Linked DNA regions of Homo sapiens: region 1 is linked to region 2. Evidence: fine-mapped QTL for protein levels in blood plasma. A gene starts in region 2. The other region holds a variant in brackets. All regions are shown on one strand. Distances are from middle to middle. Region 1 overlaps MUC13 (mucin 13, cell surface associated). Region 2 holds the start of MUC13 (mucin 13, cell surface associated).

Region 1 (16,286 bases), 27 kb after region 2:
GTCTCAGCTACTTGGGAGGCTGAGGTGGGAGGATTGCATAAGCCCAGGAGGTTGAGGCTGCAGTGAGCTGAGATCACGACACCACACTCCAGCCTGAGCAATAGAGCAAGACCAAGCATTACCCGTACTATTTTCCCCTTTAGACACACACGAACCCACCATGTAGCTGTAGCAATTTGCGTTTGCTGTGTTACGAAGGTAGTGGCCAAAAACAACCATCATTTATTTACTGCAACCCTAGAATTCTATGGGTCTGAATTTGAGCTGGGCTCAAGTGGATAGTGTGCTGATCTGGGCCAGGCTTAATTGATCTCTGCTGGGCTCACTTAAGCATCTGCCATTAGCTGCTGGGTATAAATGGTTTGTCTCTGCTCCACATGGTCTCTTATCAGCAGACCCATCCAAAGGATTTCAAGAGCAGCAAGAGGGTAAGATTCAATGCACAAATATTTCTCAAGTCTCTGCTTACATCACAGTTACAACTGTCCAATTGGCTAAAGCAATTCGCATTACCAAGCACAGTGTGGAAGGGCCCTGCCCAAGGGGTACAGAAAGGTGTGAGTAAATTGATGTCATGACTGCAGTCAACCCACCATAACAGTCATCAGAAGTTCCTCACCCCAGAGGTGACCCACTGGGGCCAGTCCCGGGAAGAGGTGTTTGCAGCTGGTTCTCAGTCCTGGTTGCCAAATCCAGAATCCTCTGTTGAGCCACAACTTATTTGACTTTTCTATAGCATTTGACACTAGTATCCTTCCCTTCTAGATGTTCCCTTCTTCCTGGGCCCGCATCCACCATTCTCCTAATCGCCTTCGTGCCTCCCTCATCCTTCTTTTTGCTCCTTCTAAGACTCCTTTCTTCATCTCTTAAGTGTTTGCTTTTTTGTTTGTTCATTTGTTTGTCAGGGTCTCACACTGTTGCCCAGGCTGGAGTGCAGTGGGATGATCTTGGCTCACCACAACCTCCAACTCCCGGGTTCAAGCGATTCTCCTGCCTCAGCCTCTCGAGTAGCTGGGATTATAGGCATGTGCCACCACGCCCAGCTAATTTTTGTATTTTTAGTAGAGACGGTTTTCGCCATTTTGGCTGGGCTGGTCTCGAACTCCTGACCTCAGGTGATCTGCCCGCCTTGGCCTCCCAAGGTGCTGGGATTACAGGTGTGAGCCACCATACCTGGCCGGAAAACACTTTCCTGTTCTCCGGCTTCAGTGGCAAAGATAAATTGTTTTCTTTGCCCAAAATTGTAGAATCTCTTGCTCTAGGCTTTTAATCAGAGGCATTTTCATGTGGCAGGTGATGAAGGAGGCTCAGTTACAGTTTGGGATGTTTAGTAGAGAGGAGCCATATGACTCTACCTACTCCTATTCTCTCCCCCACTCCATTCTCAGACTCATCATTTTTTTTTTTCTCCCCGAGACGGATTCTTGCTCTGTCACCCAGAGCTGGAGTGCAATGGCACGATCTCGGCTCACTGCAACCTCCGCCTCCTAGGTTCAAGCAATTCCCCTGCCTCAGCCTCCTGAGTAGCTGATATTACAGGCACATGCCACCACACCCAGCGAATTTTTGTATTTTTAGCAGAGATGGGGTTTCACCATGTTGGTCAGGCTGGTCTCAAACTTCTGACCTCGTGATCCACCAGCCTCGGCCTCCCAAAGTGCTGAGATTACAGACGTGAGCCACCACACCCAGCCCAGACTCATCTTTTAACCCTAATGCCTTCCAACCCATTTTTATTTCTTTATTTATTTTTATTTATATTTTGAGACAAGGTCTCACTCTCGCTCAAGTTGGAGTGCAGTGGCATGATCATGGCTCACTGTAACCTTGAACTTCTGGGCTCAAGTGATCCTCCCACTCCAGTCTCCTGAGTAGCTGGGACTACAGGAGCTTGCCACCATGCCCAGCTAACTTTTAAATATTTTCACTGTGTTGCCCAGGCTGGTCTTGAACTCCTAGGCTCAAACGATACTCCTGCCTTGGCCTTCTAAAGTGCTGGGATTACAGTTGTGAGCCACTGCACTTGGCCCCAAAACTTATTAAAAGGCAAAGTATAACAGCAATGGGGTGGGGTAATTTTCACAAATTACCTTATCCATATTGTCATGCTGAATATATTTTTAAACTATTTGTGCTTCTCAGTGACCCTTCGGTGTGATTATTATGGCTGTAACCAGACTGCGGATGACTGCCTCAATGGTTTAGCATGCGATTGCAAATCTGACCTGCAAAGGCCTAACCCACAGAGCCCTTTCTGCGTTGGTAAGTGTTTCACCTGCTTCTAAATGTTCTTCATAACATCACTTTCTCTTCTTTTGCAACATAAAAAATTCACTCCTTTAGTTTCCACATGCATTTCAGAGTCCGAGTGATCTGACTTCTGACTTTAGACATATGGACCATGGCTGGGACCTTTGCTAGCCCATGTCCAGCTTCACAGGGGGCACATCATGTGTGGAGTCAATAAGCATCTCATTTTACCTAGAAAAAGCAATGTGAAAGACACTGTCATGTTGTCACATGTGACTTTGGGGTTAAAGAGATTGTTTCTGAAAATTACCCAGAAATCATTCTGTTTTGAAGCTTCCAGTCTCAAGTGTCCTGATGCCTGCAACGCACAGCACAAGCAATGCTTAATAAAGAAGAGTGGTGGGGCCCCTGAGTGTGCGTGCGTGCCCGGCTACCAGGAAGATGCTAATGGGAACTGCCAAAAGTAAGAAAAATAACTTTGTTTTTGTCTTGCCACAGCTGGAGCTAGGCAAAGTAGAGAGACCTTACAACACGTATATAGGTGTTGAGTCAGGAAGCTGGTAAGCTGTCATAGGTTGGTAGAGACAGCATCCTCATCATTGTCATCATCAATAGTTTTTTTTTTTTTTTTTTTTTTTGAGATGGAGTCTCACTCTGTCCCCCAGGCTACAGTGCAATGGTGCAATCTCGGCTCACTGCAACCTCCACCCCCCAGGTTCAAGTGATTCTCCTGCCTCAGCCTCCCGAGTAGCTGGGATTACAGGTGCCTGCCACCCTGTCCAGCTAATTTTTGTATTTTTAGTGGAGACGGGGTTTCATCATCTTGGCCAGGCTGGTCTTGAACTCCTGACCTCATGATCCACCTGCTTCGGCCTCCCAAAGTGCTGGGATTACAGGCGTGAGCCACCATGCCCAGCATCATCAATAGTTTTTGAGCATTCTCTATGCTCCAGGAAACACACTAGGTAATACCTATCACACAGCAACATTGTCAGGAATGTCTTAATTTCCATTTTCAGGTGAGGAAACTGAAACTGATTGTAAATAACATCCTCCAGCTCACAGGGCAACAAATAAGTGGCAGAGCCATGTGGCGTCACAGCCTGAGATGGTCCCACTACCCTCCATGCCTCTTGGGTTCAGCTTTGCCTGAACTGCAGAATCTTCCTGAAGCCCGGAGGATGGAGTGTTCAGTCAGTAGCAAATGAGCCTGCATGAGATTGCGTACCCCCCTCACCCTTCCAGAACCCCATGGAAGGTGGTCTCCTGGAAGAATGAGAGTGTAAGGAAGGCAAAAGAAAGAGGAAAAAAAGCAAGGGAGGACAGAATAAAAGGAAGATGGAAAGGAAGAGGTGGAGATTGGGGTGGGAACTCTGACATGCTCCCCACAGGGGCTCTTTAACACTGTTTCCTATTGCTCACTGTATTTCAGGTGTGCATTTGGCTACAGTGGACTCGACTGTAAGGACAGTGAGTATGAAAGTCTTGCTATTATAAACAAGTTATTAAACATCTGAGAAATCAATAGTGACCCCATTCAACATCCTGCCCAGTCCTTCAAAGTCTCTGTCCTCTTTCATAAAGAGAGAGACCATCTGCCTCCAGTTTGCCTTCTGGGTCCTGCCATGCCATGCCCACCCTTAGGTTATGAACAGCAGCCCCTCTGCCATAGAAAATAACAGAACTCAGCACCAGGAGTGGGCTGGCACCTCTGGACTTGCTTGAGACCAGAGAAGGGCATCTTAGCATTATGTTGATTTCCTGCATTAGCTTACATATGCATTATCTGCTGCTACTAGAGATAAAAGACCAGTAATTCCAAAAATTCTGGTGGTTATAGAAGAGCAGACCTAGAAACCAGACATTTAAATACTCAAATCCTTTTGTCTCAGAGCTATTTACTGGTTTGGGATATTTTGCTGCAAATTCAAATTCTGTACCCTCCCATGCCCCACCCCCACCAGATTAAGACAATACTAACTTTAAATTTTCAATTATTTTATATTCTAAAATTTACATAATGAACTAAAGATCAGTCTTCCAAGATGAAGGAAATATTACTGTCAGCCTTCCTGCCAGCCATGAAGATAGTGATGAGTGACATTCTCCATTTCTACTGTATTTTATTGCAAGGAATAATTTGCTAAGTCTTTCTTCAGGGCTTTCAATTTCCACATCTATAAAATGAGAAGTTTGGACCAGACAAACTTTGAGGTCTTTCCCAGATTTGCCAGTCTGTGGCCCCATGAATTCACATTAAAGGCAGCATTTGGGGAAGCCATATAGCAGAAAGAGACGAAGAGGTCTAGAGCAGTGTTGTGCAATAGAAATATTATGTGAGCTACACATTTCATTTGAAATTTTAGAAATTTCAAGTAAATTGTTAGAAGTAAAAAGAAACAGATGAGGTTGATTTTAAGAACATATTTTATTTAATCTATATATCCAAAATATCATTTCAACATGGAATCAATAAAAAAAGATAAACCAATTCTCTCACATTTTTTTCACATGAAGTGTTTGCAATCTGGTGTGTCTGTTACATTGTGTCTCATAGCCGCAGTCAAGTGTCAATAGTGCCAACCAGGGCAGAGTTAGGAGAGGAGAATGGGTGATAATGAACGTCTAGACTCTTCCCTCATTGATGTTATTATCAAGCCATTAGCTGGCTCCTCTAGCAGTGACATTTAACTCCAACCTAGTTTCCTTAGCTTATCAGTAAGGTGAGGTATGGAGGGCAGGCAAAGGCAGCAGAGGTAAGGAGGGAGGTGTGGCCCTCAGCTGATACTCCACTCCCCACAAAGTCCAGGAAGACCCTGCCACCATCCTTTGTATTTACAGTGTTTTGTCTGGCAGGGCTGCCCTTTCCAATTGAGTTCTGAAGACACAGTTTAGGAGGTGTGAGGAGGGAATGCTAAAGGAAATAGGCCAACTACCCAACCTGGCCTGGAGGGTTGGAGACCAGAACCTGATCGTCTTCACAGCTAGGAGTCCCTGGGAATACACGAACCTGTGCAGTAGACAGTTGGGGGCCAGCTTGTTGGAGACTGTTCTTATTTTCTTCTTCCTTTCAGAATTTCAGCTGATCCTCACTATTGTGGGCACCATCGCTGGCATTGTCATTCTCAGCATGATAATTGCATTGATTGTCACAGCAAGGTATGGGATGAAAGTGTCCTTTTTAAATTTTTTTTTTTTATAGAGAGATGGGGGGGTCTCACTATGTTGCCCATGTTGGTCTCGAACTCCTGAACTCAAGCCATCCTCCCACCTTGGCCTCCCAAAGTGCTGGGATTACAGGCATGAGCCATCACACCTGCCAGAAGTGGCCTTTTCCTGCGGCACAGGACCACCAGCATGACACTCTCTAGTTTCCAAACATACTCATCCTCTCCTGGGCAAGAGAAGGGAGATAAGGAGAGGCCTTTCTAGTACCACTGACTTTTTTTCCTTACCTTAATTGTCTTCTTATTATATAGGCAATAGCAGGACCATGGAAGAAAATCAAGAAAATAGAGAAGTGGGTAAAGGGGCGGAATTTAAAAATCACTCACAAAACCCACCATGCTGAGGCAACTAACATTTTGAGATATAACCTTCCAGATTTATTTCTATCTTTTAAAATAATATTATATACATAATTTTGTGTCTTTTGTGTTTTTAAAATTTTGGATTGAGGTTTTTTTTGGTTTAACACCGTAAGATGACATAGCAACCATTTCCTTATGTCATTAAAAACTCTTTGTTAATGTAATAATATTTAACTCCACTGAAGTTGTCAAATACAATTTTCATCAGGTCACTTCCCTGTCCAGGACTCTGCTGCAAATGGTCTAAAATCAACCTCAACTGAACCCCCTGGGTTGTTGTTTTTTTTTAACTTTTTTTAAGAAAGTTTATCACGTTAGCCGGGCATGGTGGTGGCACCCCTGTAATCCTGCTACTCAGGAGGCTGAGGCAGGAGAATTCCTTGAACTGGGAGGCAGAGGTTGCAGTGAGCCAAGATTACCCCACTGCACTCCAGCCTGGGTGACAGAGCAAGACCCTGTCTCACATACACACACACACACACACACACACACACACACGCAAGCACACACGTGTCATCTCTGCATGGCTATTAGCTTGGTGCCTTAAGGTCTCTTCTCTTAAGGAAGGGGCACTAGAGTTCATTCATTCAACAAATATTTAGATAGACTAAAGTCCCCCCATTAACAGGGAGGCAAATGCTGTGATCTTTTTCCCATTCTCAATGTGCCAAGTGGGGATCCACTTTGATTTTTTAAAGCTACTGTTTTCTAACATTTAGTTCATATCTTATATTTTGGCAAAATAGGTAGTTTTCCACTATAATGTGACAGGATAAACAGATTTTAGGTTCCTACAATATTTTGTTCTTGTTTTTTCTCTTTTTTTTTTTGAGACAGAGTCTTGGTCTGTCGCCCAGGCTGGAGTGCAGTGGCATGATCTTGGCTCGCTGCAACCTCCACCTCCCAGGTTCAAGCGATTCTCCCGCCTCGGCCTCCCGAGTAGCTGGGACTAGAGGCACATGCCACTGTGCCTGGTTAATTTTTGTATTTTTAGTGGAGACGAGGTTTCACCATGTTAGCCAGGCTGGTCTCGAACTCCTGGCCTCAAGTGATCTGCCCACCACGGCCTCCCAGAGTGCTGGGATTACAGAGGTGAGCCACCAAGCCCAGCCTCGTTTCAAGTCTTTGAACTTGTTTTACTCATTTTACCCACCAACGTGATTCTTAGATGTTGACTTTGCTGAATGAAATGCTGTATCTCAAATTATTTTCTAATATTATGAGCAAAATATGAATGAGGCCAGTGGAATTAGATTGTTATGTTGGATCAGCATTGAAGTCCAGGTTTTGTCGCTACACAGAGCTCATGACCTTAAACTTAGGAAACCTACACTGAATAAAATAATGAAGTGCTTTATTTCATTATTTGTGGGGCATCAAGTCTGCAACTTATTCTTTCATAAAACTGTTAGTGTTCTTTGGTTATGCAACTTATTCTTAATTGGTTCAGAAATGTTAATAATTAGGGAATCTGGGTGATAAGTGTGTGAGAACGCCGTAATATATGTATTTTGTAACTTACAAATAAATGTGAGATTATTTCAGAATTTAAAAATATTTTTAAAAAGAACATTAACATTTACTTCAAGAAACTTTCTGCCATTGTCAAATCCTAATTCCTCTTACTGATTACAGATCAAATAACAAAACGAAGCATATTGAAGAAGAGAACTTGATTGACGAAGACTTTCAAAATCTAAAACTGCGGTCGACAGGCTTCACCAATCTTGGAGCAGAAGGGAGCGTCTTTCCTAAGGTCAGGATAACGGCCTCCAGAGACAGCCAGATGCAAAATCCCTATTCAAG[A/C]CACAGCAGCATGCCCCGCCCTGACTATTAGGTGAGTCAGTGGGCTTTTTCTCCTGCTTTTGGGAGTGAATGCACCAGGGCAGAGCAGAGACCTGGTTGCTGAATCTTCAATCCTTGGCTGCCCCGCAGGCTTTCTTTTTCTTTTTCTTAATTGAAAGAGAGAGAGAGAGAGAGATCAAAAAGGAAGTTCCCTGCTGTCGTAACTCTGAGCATCTATGTGACTACAGACACATCACTTAATTTCCCTGGCCTTTGATTTTCTCATCTGTAAAAAGGTCAGCTTAATTTAGATACCCCTAAGGTCCCTTTAGATTACCAACTCCATGAATACGACTCCAGAGATTATGATGATGACACTTCTCAGGCTGTTTGAAGACCTAGGTCCTCAGCCAGGACCAGGGAAGGACACTGGATGTAAACATAGTTCTGTGGGATCCTTTTCACCAGGCTGTGTAAAGGCAACGCTCTCTTTCCCTGCCGCTTGATCTCAAGGCAACTCTCTCTCTCTCTCTCTCTCTCTATATATATATATAAGTTCTATTTGTTGTTGTTGTTGTTTTGAGACAGGGTCTCACTCTGTCACCCAGACTTGAGTCCAGTGGTACGATCTTGGCTCACTGTAGCCTCAACCTCCTGGGCTTAAGTGATCCTCCTACCTCAGCCTCCCAAGTAGCTGGGACTACAGGCACATGCCGCTATGCCTGGCTAATTTTGGTATTTTTTGTAGAGACAGGGGTTTCTGCCATGTTGCCCAGGCTGGTCTCAAATTCCTAAGCTCAAGTGATCCTCTCGCCTCGTCCTTCCAAAGTGCTGGGATTACAGGCATGAGCCACTGAACTGGGCATCAGTCCACTTCTAAAGAGATGAAATGGAACTTAGCTTGTTGGCTCATCCCATACTCCTAGCACTTTGGGAGCCTGAAGCAGGAGAATTGCTTGAGCCCAAGAGTTCGAGACCAGCCTGGGCAAATAATGAGACCCCATTTTTACAAAAAATAATAATAATAAAAGATAGCTTTTTAAAAAAGGAGATAAAGCTAGTTAGGCTGGTGATACTGTATTTCTCTAGGGAGAACTTTCAAGGACAACAGCTTGTACCCACTGGGTTTGTATTGGATAATCATAGCTGTCACTGCTTAGTGTGATTGAATGAAATGTTGAAAGAAGGAAGCCTGTAAGAGACTTTAGGAGGAAGAGTGACAGGAGACAGATGGAAAGAAGGAAGATGGTAAAGGAAGAGGAGAAAGGGAGCTGGGAAAGAGATGGGGAATGGAAGAGACGTGAGAGAAATGATAGGGAGAATATGGGATAAAGCTGAAGAAGACAAATAATGTTAATGAAAGTAATGTTAATAATTTACAGATCTAAACGATCTCATATGTTTCTGTTGGAGTATTTTCTAAGAGTATTGTCTCTCCCTCTCTCTTTCTGTCTAGAATCATAAGAATGTGGAACCCGCCATGGCCCCCAACCAATGTACAAGCTATTATTTAGAGTGTTTAGAAAGACTGATGGAGAAGTGAGCACCAGTAAAGATCTGGCCTCCGGGGTTTTTCTTCCATCTGACATCTGCCAGCCTCTCTGAATGGAAGTTGTGAATGTTTGCAACGAATCCAGCTCACTTGCTAAATAAGAATCTATGACATTAAATGTAGTAGATGCTATTAGCGCTTGTCAGAGAGGTGGTTTTCTTCAATCAGTACAAAGTACTGAGACAATGGTTAGGGTTGTTTTCTTAATTCTTTTCCTGGTAGGGCAACAAGAACCATTTCCAATCTAGAGGAAAGCTCCCCAGCATTGCTTGCTCCTGGGCAAACATTGCTCTTGAGTTAAGTGACCTAATTCCCCTGGGAGACATACGCATCAACTGTGGAGGTCCGAGGGGATGAGAAGGGATACCCACCATCTTTCAAGGGTCACAAGCTCACTCTCTGACAAGTCAGAATAGGGACACTGCTTCTATCCCTCCAATGGAGAGATTCTGGCAACCTTTGAACAGCCCAGAGCTTGCAACCTAGCCTCACCCAAGAAGACTGGAAAGAGACATATCTCTCAGCTTTTTCAGGAGGCGTGCCTGGGAATCCAGGAACTTTTTGATGCTAATTAGAAGGCCTGGACTAAAAATGTCCACTATGGGGTGCACTCTACAGTTTTTGAAATGCTAGGAGGCAGAAGGGGCAGAGAGTAAAAAACATGACCTGGTAGAAGGAAGAGAGGCAAAGGAAACTGGGTGGGGAGGATCAATTAGAGAGGAGGCACCTGGGATCCACCTTCTTCCTTAGGTCCCCTCCTCCATCAGCAAAGGAGCACTTCTCTAATCATGCCCTCCCGAAGACTGGCTGGGAGAAGGTTTAAAAACAAAAAATCCAGGAGTAAGAGCCTTAGGTCAGTTTGAAATTGGAGACAAACTGTCTGGCAAAGGGTGCGAGAGGGAGCTTGTGCTCAGGAGTCCAGCCGTCCAGCCTCGGGGTGTAGGTTTCTGAGGTGTGCCATTGGGGCCTCAGCCTTCTCTGGTGACAGAGGCTCAGCTGTGGCCACCAACACACAACCACACACACACAACCACACACACAAATGGGGGCAACCACATCCAGTACAAGCTTTTACAAATGTTATTAGTGTCCTTTTTTATTTCTAATGCCTTGTCCTCTTAAAAGTTATTTTATTTGTTATTATTATTTGTTCTTGACTGTTAATTGTGAATGGTAATGCAATAAAGTGCCTTTGTTAGATGGTGTCCTTGTGTCTGGGGCTTTTTTTTCATTTCTTTTTCTTTCTTTCTTTTTTTTTTTTTTTTTTTTGAGACACTGTCTTGCTCTGTCACCCAGGCTGGAGTGCAGTAGTGTGAACATGACTCACTGTAGCCTCAAACTCCTGGGTTCAAACAATCCTCCCATATAAGCCTCCTGAGTAGGTGGGGCTACAGAAGTGTGCTGTCATGCCCAGCTAATTTTTTTTTGTTGTTGTTAGAGACAGGGTCTCACTATGTTGCCCAGGCTGAGTTTGGGGGTTTTGATGATGCACACAGCAGTTAGTCTCATTTTAAATAGCAAACGTGACACATGGTAAATGGGAGTGACTGATATCTGCTATCCTTATTAGGGGTTATTGGATTACCCAAGATAACGTTCTACTGCATAGTAGACATTTGCTTCCTCCACGCACATCCCACTCCTACCCCATGATGATGAGCATTTTGGGTGGGGCTGATCCTGCTCCCAGCTACAGAGGTTGGCTCTGGTTGGCTCAAGCCAATCAGCGAAATCCCATGCCTCCTTGCCACAGTAATCGTCCTAAAAGTGAACGTGTGGCATAAGTGGATACAATTAGAATAAAGCCTAAACTTTGGTAGGAAGTTTGGAGAAAGAGAAACTTTCTTCTTCTGGAAAGTGGGCTTGAGGGTGTGAAGTCTTGAACTGCTTCTGTTTTGCTGGGGACAAAGCTGACACACACAGAGGAGAAGAACTGAGAGAACCAGAGAGAAATGGACCTGGCACCTTGATCAAACCATACCTGAAGCCTCTGGAATTTCCTCTGCTACAAGGCCAGTTTGAGTAGTTTTTTCCTGTTATTTGCAGTCAAAAAATCCTCACTGATACCACTTATGTTTATTCTTGTATTCTCATGGCTAAATGGTGAATCACATATAAGAAACATACTCTTATGAGCTATTAATGCCCACACTGAAGACATTAGCCATAAACCAATCAGTTAACAGCAGCAGAGTTATTGCAGGCAGAACTTAAAATTGGCTGGCCACTGTATTTTGTCATCACAGACTCTATTTCTGACCTGCATATTACCCCCTTTGTATTTAAATATGATTCTGGATTCAGTACTAGTAGAAGGCTATTTCTAAAGAGGCCTTTCCCCCTTCCTGATCCCCCTTTGGACCAGAGCATGCCAACTCCTGTCACTTCTCAAAGGTCCTGAGCCATACTAATTCTGGGCTTCCTGGGCCATTCTTCAAAGACTTGCATTGCTATTGTTTGACTAAAAATAATCTCCTAAAGATATATATGTATAATGTTTATGAAAATGGCTTTTGCATTTGGATTCAAAAAGTTCTTTTTGATTATTGTGCAATATGACCTATAATTCATTTGTTTCTGCTTGCTGGTAACTTTGCAAAGGTTCTCTTACTAATTGTTCTGCCACTTTGGAGGGCTGTCAGAGTGAACTTTCTACGATGCATATCTGATTGTGACACTCCCTTGCTTAAGCTTTCAGGGGTCATCCACTGAGAAATAGAGCTCATAGAATAAAGTCAGACTCCTGGTGGCATGGCACTCCTAGACATCCAGTTACTGCCGCTGATTGTGCTGGCTTTGCCTCATGACCCTCCCCACGATGCACTACCACTTTGGCCATACCTGCTGTTTCCTAAACATACCACCTCTTTAATTTATTATTATTATTATTATTTTATTTTATTTTTTTGAGACAAGGTCTGGCTCTGTTGCCCAGCCTGGAGTGCAGTGGTGTGATCTTGGCTCATTGCAAACTGCCTCCCAGGCTTAAACCATCCTCCCACCTCAGCCTCCTGAGTAGCTGGGACTACAGGCACTTGCCACCACACCTGGCTAATTTCTGTGTTTTTGTAGAGACGAGGTTTTGCCATGTCACCAGGCTGGTCTCGAATTCATGAGCTCAAGCAATCCACCTGCCTTGGCCTCCCAAAGTGCTGAGATTACAGACATGAGCCATCGTGCCCAGCCAACATATCATCTCTTCATGCCTCCATTCCTTTGCTCATGCTTTCCCTCTTGCTTTTCCTCATGCTCATGCTTTCCCATTTTGGAATGCCCGTTTCCTTCAACTACCTAATGTCTTAATCTGTTTGAGCTGTATTACAAACTACCACAGACTGAGTGGCTTACAAACAACATAAGTTATTTCTCACAGTTCTGGAGGCTGGGAAGTCCAAGATCAAGGTGTCAGCCAATTTGGTGTCTGGTGAGGACCCAGTTCCTCATAGATGGCCATCTTTTCACTGTAACCTCGCATGTTGGAAGGAGCAAGAGATCTCTCTGGGTTTTTTTTTTTGTTTGTTTTGTTTTTTTGATGGAGTCTTGCTCTGTCACCCAGGCTGGAATACAGTGGTGCGATCTTGGCTTACTGCAACCTCTGCCTCTTGGGTTCAAGCAATTCTCCTGCCTCAGCCTCCCAAGTAGCTGGGACTACTACTGCAGCCATCACGCCCGGCTAATTTTTTGTATATTTAGTAGAGACGAGGTTTCACCATGTTAGCCAGGATGGTCTCTATCTCCTGACCTTGTGATCCACCCGCCTCAGCCTCCCAAAGTGCTGGGATTACAGGTGTGAGCCACTGCGCCTGGCCTGGGGTCTCTTTTATAAGGACATTAATCCCATCCATGAGGGCTCCACCCTCATTAACTAATAACTTCCCAAAGGTCCCACCTCCTAATAGCATCATATCAGGCTTTAGGATTTAATACATGAATCTTGAGGGTACCTAAACATTTAGACCACAGCACCTGATAAATACCTCCATCTGTCTAGATCAACTAAACCATTTTCTCCTCTGGCTACCCCAGTACTCTCAAGTAGAGTTGCCTCCTTCATGTCCCAACTGGTCCTGTAACCAGTTCCCCCAGAGAAGTGGTTGTATCCATGGTTCCTTCTAACCCAGCACAATGCCTGGCATAGAACAAGTATTAAATAATTGTGAAATGGGAGTGTAAAACAGGACTCTTGCAGCTCAACCTTGAAGAATATGATCATTATCTTGATTGTGGCACTGGTTTCACAAGTATACACATGTCAAACATTGTCCAATTGTACACTTTATAAATGTACACTTTGGTGTATGTCAATTATACCTTCACAAAGCTGGGTTTTTTTATTTTTATTTTTTAAGTGGGGAGTGAACTATTATGCAGAGCTGTCTCCAACCTTGAGGGCGGCACCTTCTAGGCACAGCCCTAAGACAGGACGAGAAAACGCACATGTCACACTGCTGGCTTGTCGCATTAGACCGAAGGTCCTCTGAGGTTGGCTTTGGGTGAAACAACAGGAATGGCCCGCTGCCCTGACAGCGGCAGGTCTTAGCTTCACATTGGGATCCCCTGAGGAGGTATAAAAGTTACTGATGCCTGGGTCCCATTCCAGAGCACATCAGTCTAGGGCAGACCTGAGTCTCAGGAGTATTTAAACTCTCACCTGCACGTTTTTTTGTTTTGTTTTGTTTTGTTTTTGTTTTTGACAGAGTCTCCCTCTGTCACCCAGGCTGGAGTGCAGTGGCACGATCATGGCTCATGGCAGGCTCTAACTCCGGCCTCAAGCCATTTTCCCCGCTCAGCCTCCTGAGTAGCTGGGATTCCAGGAGCCACCCGCCACGCCCTGCGCTCCCAGGTGCTTCTAATGTGCGGTGGAGTTTGAGAACCACTGTTTCAGGTCACTGCGTTGGCTAATGGTCCAACTCGAGGTCACATCACATCATTTCCCATTCCTTCCTCCAAGAGTCTAGAAGCCAAGAGTCACATTGTGGACAAGAAGCCCCAGTAAGCTCCAAGTCTCTCTATGGAGAAGGTGACCAGGCATCCAGATTGCATCAACACCAAAACCGTTTGAGGCTGAACTCTTTTGTGCCATTTTGCCCCCAAACCTACCCTGGCCTTCCGCCCCTTTCTGCGGCTGGGCAAATCTCGGGGCCGGTAGGTGGCGCTGTCTCCTATGGCTTGCAGAAAACTCAACTTCCGGCGGGGCGGAGCTTTTAAAAGGCTTTTTTGAAATCATTAACTTTCATTTTATTATTTCTTTTTATCGAGACAGAGTCTCACCCTGTCGCCCAGGCTGGAGTGCAGTGGCGAGATCTCGACTCACTACAACCTCTGCCTCCTGGGATCAAGCGATTCTCCTGCCTCAGCCTCCCGAATAGCTGGGATTACAGGTGAGCACCACCATGCCCGACTAATTTTGTATTTTTAGTAGAGACAGGGTTTCACCATGTTGGCCAAGCTGGTCTTGAACCCCTGACCTCAAGTCATCCTACCGCTTTGGCCTCGCAAAGTGCTGGGATTACAGGTGTGAGCCACCGCACCTGACCTTAAAACCATTAACTTTTAATGCACCATTTCTAAATTTCTCCTTGGACTTTTCCTTGGTTGGTCTCTTTATTCCTTGTTCTTGTGCTAGGGAGAAATGAATGTTACGCTGTTTGCTCTTGTTGAGATATTTGCATCATTTTTACTGAATCATTAGAGATCATATATTGTCCTCTTTATTGCTCTTATAATACATAACCATAAGCAATGTTAATGTCATATTAATGGTGCATAAAGTTTGGTACAATTGTTCAGAGAAATCAATGTTTTATTTAGCGGTGATTGTACAAAATTAAAAAGGAGATAAATCCATTTTCATTGAAAAATTCTTCAGTTAAATAAAAAACAAAATGCCACCCGTGGGAGGTGAGGTGAGCAAGATCTGTCTGGGTTTTCCCTGAGGGTTCTCCGAGAACTCCAGTTTGCCATTAATTGACAATCCACAGTGCAAAAAGCAAGGTTGGAGATTAGGTTGGGGAGAGCCCTGGAAAACATATGGGGGTGTTCTTCTCAGTCTCAGGGCTATGAAATGTGGTGCTTTTATTCAAAGACAGAAGCCTGGGGCAAACCATCAAAGGCCTCATAATTTCTGCAGGCCTGGTAACATTTTTCCTGAGCCCACAATCACGACATGTGGGCCAATAAGGAAATTCTCTGCTACTTCCAGGTGAGAGAGCCAGTTTGAAAATCAACAACAACAATAATATTTCATATATTATGAAGCACTCCCTATATGCCAGGCACAATTCTTGTGCCTCACACATATTAACCCCTTTAATTCTCACGATAATTATGAAGTAGGTACTGTTTTCATGCCTGTTCAATAGTAGGGGAAATAGAGGCAAGTAACTAGTCTGCAGTCACATATCTAGGAAGTGACACAGCCAGGATTTGAGCCAGGCAGTCCGACTCCATTGCCTACCTCTCTGTCATTTAATGTTAAAGTATTAACAGAGGTAATATATTTCAATAGTCAGTAGGAACAATGTGACATATATTTGAAGCTGAGAGTGTCCTGTATTTACCAGGACCTGGTGCCAGATGCAAATAGAGTGGTGGATGAAACACAGGCTTCATCGTCCTGGAGCTCTCAGGTTAATGGCCTTTATTACCAAAAGTGCAAAACTCTTTCTTTACTTATGTCATTGTTCAAATTTCATAAAGTATTCTCATATTCTCTCCAGTAAAGTAACTCATCTAAAACTACCTGCAACATGCCTGCTGCTGCTTTTTTTTTTTTTTTTTTTTTTTTTTTTTTGAGACAGGGTCTTGCTATGCTGGCGAGGCTGGAGTGCAGTGGCATGATCATGGCTCACTGCAGCCCTGACCTCCTGGGCTCAAGCAACCCTCCCACTTCAGCCTCCTGAGTGGTGGGACCACAGGTGAATGCCACCACACCCAGCTAATTTTTAAAATATTTTGGAGCGATGAAGTCTCACTATGCTGCCCAGGCTGGCTATGATCCCTGGGCTCAAGTGATCCTCCCACCTTGGCCTCCCAAAGTGCTTGGATTCCAGGTGTGAGCCACCATGCCTGGCCTGCTTCTCATTTATTACCCCAGATATGACTTCCTC
Region 2 (12,204 bases):
GTGGTGGCGGGCGCCTGTAATCCCAGCTACTCGAGAGGCTGAGGCAGGAGAATGGCATGAACCCAGGAGGCGGAGCTTGCAGTGAGCCGAGATTGCGCCACTGCACTCCAGCCTGGGTGACAAAGCGAGACTCCCTCTCAAAACAAACAAACAAACAAAAAAAGATGAGTAAAAAGCTAAATATTCTTCCCCCACATATTTACTTACTAATAATATTTTCTCTTTTGAATAATTTGATCATGACAACCAACTTTTGGAAGATAAATTGTCTGAATGCACTGTGGGTCTGAAGACCCCAAACTGTGTCTTATTTCTTTGCATTCCCTGTTCCCTGCACCTAGAACAAATCGGACGGCCTTCATTCATTCCTTCCTTTCTTCCATAAATCTTTACTGAGCACCTGCCATGTGCCAGCTGTTCTGGATGCTGGAGACAGAGGAGTGGACAGGGAAGAGAAACTCTCATGGAAGTTAGGCAACAGGTAGCTAAACCAGCAAAGAGACAAAGTAATTACATATTGTGATGAGGGCTATGGAGGAAACGAACTGAGGTGGGATGGTCAGGCGAGTAGACCAGCTCCTTTAGATAAGGCCCCCAAGGAAGATCTGGCCTGTCGTTCTCCTGCTTAAATGTTCCCATGGCTTCTGCCATTGTGCTTAGAATAAAATCCACATTCCTTTCCACAGCCTCTAAGATCCTGTAGGATCAGGCCCCAGCCTGCCTCTCTGACAACATCTCCCCCCAGTCTCCTCCTAAATCATGGTGCTCTTCAAACACACCAGACTTGTTCTGGCCTCAGGCCTTTGCACTTACTACTTTTCTAGCTGGAATGCCCTTTTTCTGATGTTTATATGGCAGGCTTCCCTTCAATAGCAGCTCTCAGTTCCGATATCAGCTCCTGCAAGAAGGTTTTGCTGACCATCCTATTTAAAGTAGCACCTCATACCCCACAAGTCACTATCCCATTGTTGTGTTTTATTTTCTTCAGAGCATTGACCACTCTCTAAAATCATTGTATTTAATTACTTTTTTTGCCGACCTCCACTACCCATGATCTCACAGAAGCTTCAGGAGAGCAGAGACCTTCATCATCTTGTTCACTGCTTCATCTTCGATACCTGATGGATGTGCAGAGATGCCTCGAGTACCTGGGAGTGACTGAACAGCCCCCTCCTGAACATTACTCATGTAAAGCAACCATTCACTGAAAAGTTAATTTCAGAGGGTATAAAAAGCAAGAGTGGAAATGGTTCTGTCAATGTGTCATCAATTAGACATTTGAGTTGGGAATATTGCATTCCACAAGTCATTTCTCTGGGAATGGTCTTCTGAATTAGAGAGGAAAATGCTGATCAGCTTCATGTAGTATCTAAATGTGATATCCGTAAATGGTAGTAGTGACTCTGGGAAGGCTATACTCACACCTCTATTGAGGGGCTGGAATTAGTGAGAAGGAGATAGGAGCTTAACATGTATTTACATTTGGTTCTATAGACAGAAAATAATCTTTGGGTCTAACTATTTAATCTTGATAGAATTTTATGTTTTAATGATCCTCTAGAGCCTTATCATGGTACTGCAGTGTTGCAGAATCAAAGTAGCCAAAGAGGAGCTCTTTTGTTTGAGACAGGGTCTCGCTCTCTCGCCCATGCCGTGGTGCAGCAGTGCAATCTCGGATCACTGCAACCTCCGCCTCCAGGGTTCAAGGGATCCTCCTGCCTCAGCCTCCCAAGTATCTGGTACTACAGGCATGCATTACCATGTTAAGATAATTATTTTAAAATTGTTTTGTAGAGACAAGGTCTCACTATATTGCTTAGGCTGGTCTCAAACTCCTGGGCTCAAGCAACCCTCCCACTTTGGCCTCCCAAAGTGCTGGGATTACAGATGTGAGCCACCTCACCTGGCTAGAGAGGCTCTTGATGGATCAAATTCTAATTCTAAATGGCTCTGATATAGCTCTCTTGAGTTTATGCCTAAATAACTGGATATTGCTTTAGATTAATGGGCATGTCCCATTCCTCTGCATAGTCAATAGAATTATTGAAAAGCTCACCCTGAACAATAGTTCTTTTGCAACCAGGTAATTATGGGTAAACAGCTTTTTTTTTTTAGCTGACTTGGTGACAACGTTACCAACATATAACATTGTTTCTGTGGGAAAATGGAGTCTGTGTTCTTGACTTATAGATAAATACTTAGAATTTAGCCATTTCATACTAATAAATATCAACCCTTTTTCCTATCCAGGTTTTGAGTTCTGTGAGAAGTAAAACACAGAGTACAACAGATGGAGACAAAATATTACTTTTATAGAAGCTTATTTTTGAGAATGTGGCTTAGGGCTCCCTCCTTCTGGATCCTTACCTTCTTGGGCACAACAATCCTGAATCCAGGTTATCTCCCCAAATGGAAACTGCAGGATCTGAGGTGAGTATTCCCAGTTTATTCTGAAATAAGTCACTACTCTTCCTTTAGGGCAAAATGAATAAAGACATGCCAAGAGGCCAGGAGTGTTTCAGGAATTAAACTCCCTCCATTAGTGAGGAAACATCAGCCCTGAGGAAGAAGAAGTTTCCCTCATGAAAGCTCTGTGTATTGTCTCTGTCATCCTGCAGTACTGAAGTCCTGTGTGGATGCTTTAGGAGCGGGCATACCGGTGATTGCTGATTTATACTTTGAGGACTGCCTGACTTTCTGGCTGCCCATATTTTTCCAGATGATAAGGCCAGGGAAGAGTCAGGGAGCCAGATGCTTGGCAGTACTCCATGCCTTCCTGGTTATACTTTTCATTCTATGCTCAGCAGATAAGTAATATAGAAAACCATGGAAATATTGACACTGTTGTAATATGGTGGCATCAGTAGACATTAGTGATAGAGCACTGTGGGCGCTACTCACTTGATATCTTGAATCTAAGACATGATGGGGTGTGATAGGCTTCTCCCAGTTTAGGAGACAGGATTTGAGACCCTGCATTTGAGATCCTGCAGCTACTTATGTGACCCCAGGCCACTTTTTCAATTTTTCTAGATTCCTGGTTAGGCTTTTATAAAGTGAATATAGTAAGTTTAAAATGCCATATAAAAATGACAGAAAAGGAGAAAAGATTTGCAATACATATGTAAAGAACTTTTACCATTAAAAACCAAGAAGAAAACCAATTCAACGATACAATGTGCAAATTATTTGAACAGGTACTTTACAAAAGAAGAGACACGAGTGACTAATATGCACATAAAATGATGTTCAACATCATTTGTCATCAGGAGATGCAAATTAAAACAAAAGTGAGATGCCACTACATACCCTTTAGGGTAGCTAATATAAAGACGGACAATACCAAGTGTTGGCAAGGATAGGGAACAACTGGAATTCTCATATATTGCTGATGTAAAATGGCATAACAACTTAGGAAAACCATTTGACCATTTATTAAAAAGTTATATAGCTACCATGTGATGCAGCCATTCCATTCTAAATATTTACCCTAAAGAAATGAAAGTGTATGTTCATACAAAAACTTGTACATGAATACTTATAACTTTTTTTTTTTTCTCGAGATGAAGTCCCGCTCTGTTGCCCAGGCTGGAGTGCAGTGACGTGATCTTGGCTCACTGCAAATAATACTTCCGGGGTTCAAGGGATTCTCCTGCCTCAACCTCCTGAGTAGCTGGGGTTACAGGTGCCTGCCACCATGCCTGGCTAATTTTTGTATTTTTAGTACAGATGAGGTTTCGCCACATTGGCCAGGCTGATCTCCAGCTCCTGATCTCAGGTGATCCACCTGCCTCAGCTTCCCAAAGTGCTGGGATTACAGGTATGAACCACCACACCTGGCCTTATTTATAATCTTTTTGTTTGTAATAGTCAAAACTAGAAACAACTCAAATGTCCATCGACAGATGAATTACCAAACACGCCATGGTACATTGATACAGTGGAATAGTGTTCAGATATAAGAAGAAACAAACTATGAATTCACACAGCAAGGATGAGTCTCAAAATGGTTATAAGTGAAAGAAACTGGCTCAAAAAACAAAACAAAACAAAAAACTACATCTGTATGATTCCATTTACATAAAATGCTAGAAAATGCAGACTAATTTATAGAGACAGAAAGCAGATCAATGGTTACCTGGGGTTGGGGTGGAGTATAGGGGATGTAGCACTAAAAAGGGACAAGAGGAAAGTCCCAAAGGGTGTGTTGGGAATGCTCGGTATCTTGGTTGCAACGGTAGCTACACATGTATATACATCAATCAAAATTCGTTGAACTGTACACTGTAAATAGATACAGTTTATTGACATAAATTATAGCTCAATAAAGCTAGTTTAAAAAGAAAAGAAAAACAAGCCTTTGTTTAAATCCTGATGCCAGGAGTTATTCAAGCTGAGAATAATAGCATAACATAATGGGCCTTAGAAGTGTCTTTGCTTTGGAAAAAGTGTTTAAATGGACCTCTCAGCCATGTAAGAACAAACCCCTGTCTTATTCTTGAATGGAGACTCTAGGACAATAAGCAGCTTATCTGCTGGGCGATCATACAAAAATGTTTTGTTTTCATCAAGGTCAGGGTTAAAATTTAAACCCAAAGGCCAGGTATGGTGGCACACGCTTGTAATCACAGCACTTTGGGAGGCTGTGGTTGGGGATTGCTTGAGTCTAAGAGTTTGAGACCAGCCTGGACAACATGACAAAACCCCATCTCTTCTGAAAATACAAAAATCAGCCAAGCATTGTGGTGTATGCCTGTAATCCCAGCTACTTGGGTGACTGAGGCAGGAGGATCACTTGAGCCCTGGAGGCAGAGGTTGCAGTGAGCTGAGATCGTGCCACTGCACTTCAGCCTGGGCGACAGAGTGAGACTCTGTCTCAAAAAAAAAAAAAAAAAAAAAAAAAAACTTAAACTCAAAACTCTAGCCACAACTCACAAGGTATCATTAGTTTATATTCCTCTGGCTGGGGCTAGACACAGTAGAGTTGGGGCCCTGGACTTTAAGGAGGGAAAATTAGATTAAGAAGACCCAAATCCAAGCAGTAAAGCTGGTTCCTGACACATGGTGAGAGGTGAGGGGCTGAGGAACTAGAGAGAGGGTGAGAAAGGGAACTGAGAAGTGGGGCCTGCCCAATGAGTGGCCAGGAGCAGAGAGATCAAATCAGCTGTTCTAAGTTTTCTCTTTTCTGTACTTTATTGCCAACTCCCCAACACACCAGTCACCCACAAGACTTCAGTAAAGTTAGGTTAAATGCCATGATGTGATGTCCATTGTGCTTGGGAACTTTATTGGGGGCTGTATCCAGGTAGAGTCACAGAAGCTTGGAGATGTGATTACAAAGTTGCTAGACATGACCATCAGAGAGGCCCGGAATGGTAGTCCCCAGCATACAGTGACAAAAGTTAAGCAACTAATAATTTTGGGAAACATGTAAGTCCTCTTCAGGGATTCTCAGAACTACAGCTGGAGGAAAGTGGTTTCCTGCACTCATATGTGGGTGAGTAGAGCACAGTTTGTTATTGAATGTTTAATGGAATGGTGACCTCCTAAAAGATGGCGGCTTGGAGACATTTGAGATATCAAGAGATTAACCAAACTCATGTGCCACCAACCTCACAAGGATATTTGGAATGTCCTGACTTATTTTGGGCTTTGAGTCAGAAAAATGATTCGTAAGGCCAGCTCCACCTCTTCTATCTCAAAAGCTCGGAAGAGATCTATGGTATTTGGCCAAATGCTAGCTATAATTGCCTTTCTGTGGTTTGACGTCAATTAATGACTGGACTTTGTACCCGAAAGACAGTTAAAACGAAAGGTAGCCAGGAAGGGAAATCATTTCCTCCTCAGATTACCAAGCAAGAACAGCTAAAATGAAAGCCATCATTCATCTTACTCTTCTTGCTCTCCTTTCTGTAAACACAGGTAAGGAATATTTTTACATTTTAATTCTTCCAATCATGTATGTTGTCTTTGAGGTAGAATCAGCAGGCCTATAGCTACCAATTCTCCCAGCCCAGCACATGGTCTATTTTATAAATGAAGTTTCCTCTCCAGCTCAGCTCAAAGACACAGACATTTTATCCTGTGATGGGGAAGATAGAGCAATAGCAAAAGTGGTCTGTGGGCTGGGCGCGGTGGCTCACGCCTGTAATCTCAGCAATATGGGAGGCCGAGGCAGATGGATCACTTGAGGTCAGGAGTTTGAAACCACCCTGGCCAACATGGTGAAACTCCATCTCTACTAAAAATACAAAAAAATTAGCCAGGTGTGGCGGTGGGCACCTGTAGTCTCAGCTACTCAGGAGGCTGAGGCAGAAAGAATCGCTTGAACTCGGGAAGTGGAGGTTGCAGTGAGCTGAGATGACACGGAGTGACAGAGCGAGACTCCATCTTGTAGGGGTGGGGGGAAGAAGTGGTCTATGGAGTGAGATCTGGGGGCTCAGCAAACCAGAGGTTTCTCTTTGAGAGTTCCTGAGGCCAGATAAGAAGGACTAAGTAGGTTGCAAGGACCCAGTTCTCTACTATAGCGTTCTGGATCCCCTCTCATGATAATCAGAGAGCTGACCACAGCAAAAAGCCTCCTTTCACAAATGTACTTGAATTTGAGAATGCTAAACCATAGGGAGTAATTGTCACGTTGATTAGACTTCAGACATGTACTCTCTGTTCTGAGTTAGGAAGGGTTCTATGGGCCACATGTGGGTGAGGTCAGCAGTATGTTGAGAGGTGAGGGTTGTGGAGGCCAATTGGCTTCCTAAAATTTTGCAGAAAAATCACTGGCATGAAGTAGATGGACTAATAGGAAAAAAGGCATACAACTGTATTTAATGTGTGTACCCAGGAACCTTCAGCATGAACACCCAACTTCCTGATGAGGTATAGAAGCTTATACACCATCTTGAGGTTACAGAAAGAAAGGGGGCTTGGATCTTGGTAAAACAAGTTATGGAAGAAGGGAGAAGAGGAATTCTGTTGAGGGGCAATAAATGATTATTAGGGAGAATAATTGGATCTGGGAACAAAAATGAACTTGTAGATAATTCTCCTTGGAATTTAAAGATCCTTGGAGACAGTCCTTATCTTGATGAAGGGTCAGCTCAGGGGTGGTTTCCTTCTCGGTCTTCTTTCCTGTAGTGGATAATGACATAACAGGGAGGGGAACAGGAGCAATAGTTCTTCTTTGGTGGATCAGTCCTTACAGCGCTTGTTGACCTCTAAGAGTTTTTAATTTAAAATACTCATTATATCATGGAGCTATATTTGGGGGTGAAATATTTTTATTTCCTTCAGGTTCAATGAGTTGAAATCTAGAAGCTGCTTGCAGAAAGGAAGAAAGTATTTGATAAGGCAGATGTATGAAGAGAAATTAAGCCCTTTCAGAGAACTGGAATGAATGGCATCAGGATTAGAGTTTTTTGAGAGCTGGTTTCAAGCTCTTAATGCTGGAAGGTTGGAGAAGGCTAGCTGCACAGGAGGGGAGGGCTCACCAGATCTCTCCTGCCAACCTTGGGGGCAGATGCTAGGTCCAAGCCTTCAGGACAAAGGAAGAATTGGTGAGGCTTGTATGACTTTCAGGAGCCACTGTTAAAAAAGGCTTGACTTTTTAAAAATAGAATAGAAGGGCGGTAGAAAGGGGAAAGTTGGCTGGGAGGGGACAAGGAGATGAATAGAGAGTTAAGGGAATCAGGAATCATTGAGGCTCAAGGGACCTTAGGGGAATGGAGATGTTTCTTGACCCAGAGAACCCAGGGGGAAGGGCAAAAGTAGGGCAAGCAGGGATTCAGATGGCATGCCACCACTTATTAGCTGTGGGGTGTCTCTGACCCTCAGTGTCTTCCTGTGTAGCAATAGAGGGGAAATCCCTATACTGAAGAGTGACTGAGAGGATTAAATGAGACAAAGAGCCTGATGTGCCGGGATACTGCCTGGCACATAGGGGCTTAATAAATGATTTCCCTTTTTGTCATGTCTGCACTTGGATCTGATTTTCTTTTCTTTCTTTCTTTTTTTTTTTTTGAGACCGAGTTTCACTCTTGTCGCCCAGGCTGGAGTGCAATGGCACGATCTCTGCTTACTGCAACCTCCGCCTCCCAGGTTCAAGCGATTCTCCTGCCTCAGCCTCCAGACTAGCTGGGATTACAGGCACCTGCCACCACACCTGGCTAATTTTTGTATTTTTAGTAGAGATGGGGTTTCACCATGTTGGCTAGGCTGGTCTCAGACTCTTGACCTCAGGAGATCCACCTGCCTTGGCCTCCCAAAGTGCTGGGATTACAGGCGTGAGCCACCACGCCCAGCCTGGATCTGATTTTCAAACTTTGGTTTTGATTTCCTCTTCTTTGTTTAAAAAAGTTATACAAGTAATGCAGACCCACTGTAACAAATCCAAACAATACAGATGTATATGAAATAAAAATTGAGCATCCAATCTGACTTCCCACCCATCTACCTCCAGATATATTAATACTGACAGTTTTGTGGCTACTAAGGTTTGCTTTTGAAAAAAATATTTATTTTATTATTTATTTATTTATTTTGAGACAGAGTTTTGTTCTTGTTGCCCAGGCTGGAGTGCAATGGCGCCATCTTGGCTCACTGCAACCTCCGCCTGCCAGGTTCAAGCAATTCTCCTGCCTCAGCTTCCCAAGTAGCTGGGATTACAGGTGCTCACTACCACACCTGGCTAATTTTTTTGTATTTTTAGTAGAGACGGGGTTTCACTACATTGGCCAGGCTGTTCTCGAACTCCTGACCTCATGATCCGCCCGCCTTGGCCTCCCAAAGTTCTGGGATTACAGGCGTGAGCCACCGCGCCTGGCCTTATATTACTTTTTGAGATGGAGTTTTGCTCTTGTCGCCCAGGCTGGAGTGCAATGGCACTATCTCAGCTCACTGCAACCTCTGCCTCCCAGGTTCAAGTGATTCTCCTGCCTCAGTTTCCCGAGTGGCTGGGATTATAGGTGCCTGCCACCACGCCCAGCTAATTTTTGCATTTTTGGTAGAGATGGCGTTTCATCATGTTGGCCAGGCTGATCCCAAACTCCTGACCTCAGGTGATCTGCCCGCCTCGGCCTCCCAAACTGCTGGGATTACAGGCATGAGCCACCGCGCCTGGCCTGAAAATTTTTAAAAAGTTGCTTTTTTTTTTTTTTGAGACAGAGTCTCGCTCTGTTGCCAGGCTGGAGTGCAGTTGTCACGATCTTGGCTCGCTGCAACCTCTGCCTCCTGGGTTCAACCAATTCTCCTGTCTCAGCCTCCCAAGTAGTTGGGACTACAGGCGTGTGCCACCATGCCCAGATAATTTTTGTATTTTTAGTAGAGACAGGGTTTCATCATGTTGGCCAGGATGGTCACAATCTCTTGATCTCATGATCCACCCACCTCAGCCTCCCGAAGTGCCGGGATTACAGACATGAGCCACCGCTCCTGGCCTGAAAATTTTTAAAAAGTTGCTTTTTAATGTAACGTTAAGGATTTTGGAGGTGTGTGTAAGGAATCACTACTTCAAACATGAGTTCCATCTCAGATTCTGAGCAACCAAGGGCAGGAAGTGTGTCTTGTACACCTTTACGTTCCTCCTCACCCCTATGCCTTGTATAGCACCTTGACTGCAAGAACCCCCGCACAAGCATTTACTGAAACAAATGAAAAATGTGCCAGTGACATTTGAAGAGCCTTTAACAGGCAAAACTTCCCAGGTTGTTTTTGCTTTCTCTGAGAGACTAGGACTGCATTATTCCACAGAATCTGATGAGTGCCTTTGGGAACCAACATCTCATCATAATGAAGAATTCAGATCTGGGAGAAAGGCGTTTGATTGTGACTTTCAGCTAGCTTTGAATAAAGCAGTTATAGGTGTGCCCTGGACAGGGGTGGTGATTATGGAGTGTTCCCCAGAAAGAAACCAGGTCAGGGCATATATTTTCCCATTGAAACCTATGATTTGTACCTCTGTGGACGTTGTGCTATCCTTGTGTTATTTAGAAGCTTTAGGACCTAAGGAAATAAAAAGACTAAAGTTATTTCTACTGCACAGATGTCTTCATATATTTCTGTTATCTATAGATTGAACAAAATAGGTTATTTTACAGTTCCTCTTGGGTATTTTTACTAGATAATTTAAGCCTGGGATATCAGCTCTAAGCTGTCTTCCCTGAAATCTATACAACCCTCAGATAAAACACATATATACACATAGACACACACAAGTGTATTTTAGTTTAAAAAAAAATCGTAGCTATTCACAGCAATGAATTGCTGTCAGCTTGGAATGTGTCTCATTTATTAAAACTAATTGAGCATTCTGAAATGTATTCTCCCTAGTGAACAGAAATTTAAAACCAAAATAAACAAGCCACCAAGTCCAAAACTCCTTGTCATAATTCCAAAGACCTGCAAAAACCTCTCAAGAAGTCCCAATTTGTTTTATGCACATCTACAGAAACATGTTGGTTCTTTGGCATCGGCCGAGAATGAATATTCCCAAAGCATGAAATTCAGGGTCTGGTGGGGTTGGGGTTGTTTGCACCCACAGTCTGCCAAGTCCTTTTCTTCTGTCCAGAGTTTTCCACAGCGAGAGCCAGCCCCTGGCCACTCTCACTGCTACTCCGATGATAGAGGGCACCGTGGAGGTCACTTCTATTTCCACCGCTTTCATTCTGATCCCCAATTTTCTCTATTTGCTTTTCTTGTGTTTGTTCCTCGGGGGTCTTGGCTTTTTCATTAAATGGATGGCCTTCCCCATAACTTTAATCAAGTGATAGTTAGGACATTGTCATCTCACAGACCTGGCTTTGCCTCTGGGCAAATTCCTTAACCCTTCTGAGTATTGGTGGGCTCTTCTGTCAAATGTGGGCACTTATGTCTACTTCACAGGTACAGTCGGGCACAGGGCCAGTGCTTGATAGATGAGAACTATCCTGAGTGGCAGGAATAGGAAGACTGGCAGTCAACATTGCCAGTTGCTGATGTATTTCTTACCTAGGAAGAGCAATTGCTGATCTCTTCAACACTTCTGAATGGCTATGTTAGCCAAGCCCTCTTCAAGGTGAAGAATCAGGCTCTGCCCTCAAGGGGCTCATAGACCCATCGGGGAATCAGGAAGCATATTCTGCAGTTCTCTGCACCCTAAGGTTTAGAAATTGCTTCCTCACTAAACCTTTTTCTTTCAATAATTTTTTTAACCTATTGTCAAGGTCAGAGTTCTTAGAGACAAGGAAAAGTTCTAGAAAACTTATCACTGGGCCAGGCAAGGTGGCTTACACCTGTTATCCTAACACTTGGGCGGCCAAGGTGGGAGGATCACTTGAGCCCAGGAGTTTCAGCGCTGCAGTGAGCTATTATGGCACCACTGCACTCCAGCATGTGTGACAGAACAAGACCATGTCTCTAAAAAAAAAAAATAAAATAAAAGAGTGGGGGAAGAAAATGGATCACTGGATCCCTAGAGTTTACTACTCCATGTGTCCAGGGGTTCCTAAAAGTTGTGAAAATGCGACTTTGATATCCATCATAGCTCAGAGGGCAAAGATCACTTATTCATCTTACTCTTAGTCAATGTATCTAGAATTGTGAATGGGAAAACACTACTAGAATAAAATTTTGGAAGAAGTATAATAAGCACTTAATGAGGTATTTTTATTTTATTATTCTTTAAATTACCCAACCCTAACCTTTCCCTCCCTCAATCTATCAAGGTAATGAAAAAATGGGACAGTTGCCTTAAAGTGCAGAAAGACAAAAGTAGTCCATTTCTGGGTAGTCACTGCGCCACCTTGTGGCATTCTCAATTGTCCTCACTGAGAATGGTCTGAAGTATATTAAACCCTGATCTACAGTTACGTGACTACAGGCATAAATAATATTACTTCTTAGTATTCAACTTAAAAAACATTAACTCTTCTGCGGGACTGGTGGGTCACATCTGCAATCCCAGCACTTTGGGAGGCTGAGGCAGGAGGATCATTTGAGGCCAGGAGTTAAGAGACCAGCCTAGCCAGCATAGTGAGACCCTCATCTCTAAAACACACAAAAAAATTAGCCAGCCATGGAGGTGTTACAACTGTAGTCCTAGCTATTTGGGAGGCTGAGGTGGGAGGATTGCTTGAGCCTAGGAGCTCAAGGCTGCAGTGAACTATGATCACACTACTGCACTCCAGCCTGGGTGGCAGAGCAAGACCTTATTCCTAAAATAAATAAATAAAC

The links. A credible set is the group of variants that fine-mapping cannot tell apart. PIP is the posterior inclusion probability: the model's chance that the variant is causal. Protein levels are from antibody-based Olink assays in UK Biobank. Linkage for the fine-mapping came from a reference panel and not from the study's own genotypes, which makes the PIPs less certain.
Region 1: its variant is the best candidate, but not a certain one, in a credible set for the plasma level of the MUC13 protein (UK Biobank, PIP 0.72). The variant lies in the coding sequence of MUC13. If it changes the protein, the assay may bind it differently, which can mimic a change of level.

Annotation. Positions count from the first base shown.
Region 1 is chr3:124,899,538-124,915,823 of GRCh38, reverse strand. It overlaps MUC13 (mucin 13, cell surface associated), which reads left to right. Exons shown (of 12, transcript NM_033049.4): 7 at 2,143-2,262; 8 at 2,584-2,713; 9 at 3,683-3,720; 10 at 5,325-5,409; 11 at 7,476-7,677; 12 at 9,082-10,382. The coding sequence ends at 7,677. It also overlaps a transcript of ITGB5 not described here. Among named protein-coding and RNA genes, the nearest start is that of ITGB5, 20 kb to the right of the region's middle. RefSeq lists an enhancer at 7,553-8,054. The variant A/C (reference allele first, on the strand shown) is at 7,647.
Region 2 is chr3:124,928,379-124,940,582 of GRCh38, reverse strand. It overlaps MUC13 (mucin 13, cell surface associated), which reads left to right and starts at 5,832. Exons shown (of 12, transcript NM_033049.4): 1 at 5,832-5,922. The coding sequence starts at 5,871.